Regions from separate parts of the Homo sapiens genome. Here region 2 is linked to region 1. A link means that fine-mapping ties the variant in region 1 to the expression of a gene that starts in the linked region. Tissue or cell type: whole blood. Region 1 holds a variant in brackets; the other region holds the start of a gene. All regions are shown on one strand. Distances are between the middles of the regions.

Region 1 (2,500 bases):
TCTCAAATTAAAAAAAAAAAAAAAAAAAAAAAAAAAAAACTCTTAATGGATTTAGTAGGGGAAAGTATTACAATGGAGACAATGCTGCTGGCTGGATCTCTAAACATAATCTTAAAGGACCAACAGTGGGCCTGTATTATCCCAGAGTGTGACAGCTCTGGTTGGACCCTTCTCATGCCATCGGTCACTGTGGACAATCAGGCCATTCATTCACCCTGGCACAGCAGCACCCTGTGGATCTTCTCTACTCCAGGGTCATTGCTTGCCTTTCCAAAGAAAACTGACTTGTGTATCTGCTCTTCAGCCTTATTAAAAAGCAAAGTAAAACAACCTGATCTGCATACGCTTTCCAGGCCTGGAACTCAATACTTCAAAGTTTAGCGGCCGGTCATCACTTCTTCTGCGTTCACTGTTTAAACAAGCATCCTGGTGGACTGCTGCAGGTCAGCTGCAGAGGCCAATTCTCCAAGACAATGTCATTGTTCCCAACCCGTTAACTGACCCTTATACAGTAGTGCCATGTGGTCCTTCCGAGAAAGGATTCACTGGCACACTGAGGGAATGGCTCTAACTCATGTCTCAAACCAATGCCTTTTAGGATGCCACTGATCAAAGCTTTGGCTCTTTTTCAGTGTGACTCCACCTGCTAATTTCTTGGGAGACAACCTTCCCATAAAACATCCTGTGGAATTTCAAATTAAGACAAGTTGGGACTGAGAAGGGGGAAAAAAAAGATGGAGGAAAACAAAACGAAATGAGAAGCCAGGACAGGGACAGCTTCCTAGAGGCAACAGCAAACTGGTAGCGACAGATGACTTGTCCCTGAAAAGCACATGTAATGAAACTCGGGGAAAACACATTGGCTCAACTTTGTGAGTATCAGCTGGGAAAACAATTCATGTTCATCTGTCCAGTTAATTGCTTTTGTTCTTTTGCAGCAACCAAAAGCTAGAGGTGAGGGATGCCAGTTACTTTGACTCCGGCCTGTCCACCCTTGGCCCCCGCACTGTCCTCCTCTCCTTGCCCCTCCTAAGGTGACTTGTCTGCTAATCGCCGGGAGAGGCTTGCCATCAGCCTGTCTAGGAAGGTAGCAAAACAAATCCCAAACCATTCAACTTGACTCCTGGAAATACAAACTCCAGCAACTCCATTAAGTCTTAAGATAATAGCATTATATTAAAGTGAAACCATCTTCTTTTAAAAAAGAAAGAAAAACAAAGAAAGGGAGAGAGAAAGAGAAAAAGAGAAAGGTGCAAGTGTTGGTTTGAACAATGAGGTTATGAGTTCTGGGCAGCAGGGCTCTGATGTTGGCCCAATCGGTGCCTTGCGTCTGGGCCCCGAGAAGGCAGGCGGGAGAGCCCCGAAGCCTCCAGGC[A/G]GCAGGAGACAGAAGAGAGGACACAGCATTCCACCATTCAGGAGCAGCCAGAAGCTCTGACGGAACAGACTTGGGGGGAGATGGGAAAAGCAGGTTTGGACGCTTCCACTCGAGCCAGACGCTGCTTTGTCCCCAGGGTTAGCTGAACACGGTGTTGTGCTGCTGGGTCACCCGGATGAATGTTGCCCTCCTGCTGAGCTCCTTGAGTTTGGCGGCCCCCACGTAGGTGCACGTGGACCTCAGTCCCCCGAGAATATCCAGGATAGTGTTTTCCACATCTCCTTTGTAAGGAACTTCCACAGTCTTACCCTCAGAGGCTCTGGAAGACGATAGAAGTTTTCTTTTTATCTAGTTTCCCGCCCCACCTTAAGAGCCCAATTAGAATTACTCCCAGCTCCAGCACTTTCTGTAGCCCCCAAGGCACTCAGAAAACCAGACCCCACCCTCTGACCCCATCCCCACATTTCTACCAAGTGCCAAGATGATCACCAGCATCTCAGATGAACACATTCCTCCCGCCCAAAGGGCACGGGCTCATTGCTGGCTGCCCTGCATGTTGCGGAGAGGAAAGTCCTGGTGAGCAGCGCTTGAAGGAGTCAGGGACCCATAACACCCTGCTTGGTGCCATTCTCTCCAGCAACGTGCTCCCCTCTGCTGCTAACAGAAACCACCTTTACCTTTCTATTCTACCTCAACATGCACACCAACTTCCCAACAACCAGGAGCCCAAAATGCCCCCAGAATGGCCCTGGCCGATTCCCCCCTGGAAACAGCCTCCTGTCCTCCTACGTCAACAACAGGAAAAGTCCAGAGCTTCACCTCCCGCCTGTCTGGTCTAAGATCAGAAATCAAGTGTCTTCAAGGGGGACGACCAGGACGAGGAGGACATAAAATGGATAGCGCAGGTCCTACCAGCTTACGTGGAAATCACCAGCAAGGTGATTTCATTGAAGTGGCTCTGTTTTGATAGCCTGCCTGTCTTTCTGCTTTGCTGGGTACACTGGCCACCCCCAGTTCGACTCCCTGTTCTCTTACAGGTCACTACACCTATCACCCTGCACATGTGTGGGTCCAAGCAAGGTGGAATCAGAGGAGAACCAAGACCTGTCTTAGCACCAGAGGCTT
Region 2 (2,658 bases), 57 kb after region 1:
CCCCAGCCTTCAACCGTGTCCGGTTTCCTCACCTTCCTCTCCAGCTCTCAGCAAAGCCAGTCACCAGCGCACACCACCCCGGGGCACTCTGCCTTTCAGGCAACTAGTTTATCCTTCAGGGACTGGCCTCCCTTCCCCCAGCCTCAGGCTATTTCCAGTCCGGTCTCCACCTGTTCCTTAGGATTTGAGGACATCCAGGCAGAACCAGGGAAATGCCCGAGGCTTCCAATTCGCCCCCACCTCTCTCACCCCAAAGCTTTCGAAACTCTTCTCCAGGGCTAGGCTGGGACCGCGGGCTGTCCAGTACCGCTGAGTCCCCAAGCCCCACTGCCAGCAAGGCCGCCAAACTCAGAAAGGAAACCCTGAACTTGTGCCCTGGGTTCTGGTTTTTCAGACGCGTTCACGAAGTTCCACCGCTGGACCCGAAGCGAAAGCAGCAGCAATTATCAGCACTAGGAGACGCAGCCAAAAATCACCGGGATCTGCAGTTGTTTTTCTCGTCCTCTCTCCCCTAGCTCCAGTTTCCTTTTCTTGCTATAAGCGCCCTCGTACCCCTATTCCTTCTAAACCAACTGGCCACTGGATCTCGCTCATCTGTGGTCGAGTTTCACTGTGAACTTCCCCTAGGCCACCCAACGGGACCGACGTGTAGAGAATTTCATGGGCCCCCGTATCACCGCCCTTAAAGACACCTCACGTCCTGGCAGGTGCTGGGGCGCGGGAACGGGGGCGCAGCGCCCCAGTCTCAAACACCAAAGCAGGCAGGGTAACCCGGTGCCACCCCCTTCCACCCACTTGCCCCGCGCCACCCGGAAAAAAAAATCCCACCCCACTGCGACTTCCGAACGTCCCCCACCTCGGCTCGGCTCTTGAGGCTGCTCCGCTTAGGTCGGAGCAGGACATCCTTGAAGTCGAGCTTGAGGTCCGCATCTATGCGGGGCATGGTGCAGCGGCTCCTGGCTGCGGCGGCGGCGACGGCGGGGCGGGGGCGCCTGCGCGGGGCGGCGCGGGGAGCGCCGGGGCTGCTGTGCCGCGGCCGGGAGCTGGCGTGGGCCGGGTGCGCACGCCGCGGTCTTAAACACGCCCCGCCGACCCGCGGTCACGCTTGGCCCGCCCCGGGCACCGCCTCCGCCTCAGGCAGGGGTTGAGAGGCAGACTGGTTAGGGACAGATTGGCGGCGAAGCCCTTCCTCCTCGCGCCGCCGCCCCCGTCCTTCCCCCTCAGGTGTACAGCCCGTGGCAGTGACCGAATGGGGACGGGGGAGGGAAATGCGCACCGTTCTGTTTGTCCCCAGGGTCCCCGATGGAGAGGGGACTTAGCGTGTGGCTGCCTTATCCAAGGGAAAAGTCGCTCCCTGAGAGCTTTTACTTTTTTTTTTTTTTTTTTGAGACAGTCTCACTGTCGCTCAGGCTGGAGTGAGTGGCGCTATCGCCGCTCATCGCAGCCTCGACTTCCTGGGCTCAAACGATTCTCATGCCTCAGCCTCCTCGAGTACAGGCGCACGCCGCCACACCCAGCTTATTTTAAAAATTATTTCCTAGAGGCGGGGTTTCACCATATTGCCCAAGCTGGTCTCGAGCCCCTGACCTCAAGTGATCCGCCTGCCTCGGCCTCCCAAAGTGCTGGGATTACAGGCGTGAGCCACCGTGCCCGGCGGATTCTCCTTTTTTAAAATTCAAGCCCGGTGTGCTCACCCAGTGTTGAGGAGCACGTCTCTCACTTGCCAAAGAACCAGAAACCCCAGGGAGGTTGTATAGAATTAAGGAAAAGAACGTGGGCAGTTAACTGTTTAGCTGTACTGGGATTGTGGAGGCCATGATTCCCTTTGGACTTGTTGTTAAGAGACAAGGTCTCACTGTGTTGCCCAGGCTGGTCTTGAACTACTGGGTTCAAGCAATCCTCCCGCCTCAGCTTCCCAGTGTTGGGACTACTGGCGTGAGCCACTGCGCCCAGCCTGGATTTCAGGATTTTTGTTTAAGAAAAACAGTGAGGTCTGTAGTCGACGCAGATCCTGAGATTTGAGGAGCCTGAGTCCCCTCTGAGGGTTACCAGTGATGTGAGTTCGAGGGGTTACCAGTGATGTGAGTTCATTGATTCACTTATTGACCTTACCGACCTTTTATTATACATTTGAAATGTGCTGCCGGGCTTCATGCATCATCTCATTCACTCTCAGAACAACCCAATGAAGAAAGAGCCATTTCACAGATAAGGAAAAACGAGGCTTCTATAAATGAAATAACTTGCCTAAGGCCGCAGAAAAATTCAATATAAATTTCTCAGTCCTTAAAACTTGCTACAACTATTCACTGAAGCTGCTTTTGTCCTGGAACATCTCTGCCTGAGTTTGAAACCTGGTTCCACCACTGTCTAGCTAGGTGACCTTAGGGGAGTCAATTTCTCTAAGTCTCAGTTTTCTCATAAAAGGGGTGGGGGCAGGAGGGGGGGTTAACCCTATCTCCTCCCTGGTTTTTGTGAGAATTAAAGTGTGTGTGTTTATGTAAGCACAATGTCTGTCCCATAGTAGTTGCTCAATGCATGGTAGTTACAGATTTGTAGTCACATGTTACATTATGTGCATTGTGTTTGTATTTTCAAACTAGAATGCTAACTGCACAAAGGCAAGAATCATCTTTCATTCTCTTCCATTTTTCTGCA

Evidence for each region. PIP is the estimated chance that this variant, and not a neighbour inherited with it, causes the effect.
Region 2: it holds the start of GMPR, and the variant in region 1 is fine-mapped to the expression of GMPR in whole blood (TOPMed, PIP above 0.99).

What each region holds. Positions count from the first base shown.
Region 1 is chr6:16,294,200-16,296,699 of GRCh38, reverse strand. It overlaps GMPR (guanosine monophosphate reductase), which reads right to left. Exons shown (of 9, transcript NM_006877.4): 9 at 1,151-1,694. The coding sequence ends at 1,514. Among named protein-coding and RNA genes, the nearest start is that of GMPR, 57 kb to the right of the region's middle. The variant A/G (reference allele first, on the strand shown) is at 1,376.
Region 2 is chr6:16,236,979-16,239,636 of GRCh38, reverse strand. It overlaps GMPR (guanosine monophosphate reductase), which reads right to left and starts at 1,050. Exons shown (of 9, transcript NM_006877.4): 1 at 857-1,050. The coding sequence starts at 943. RefSeq lists silencers at 948-1,047, 1,168-1,267.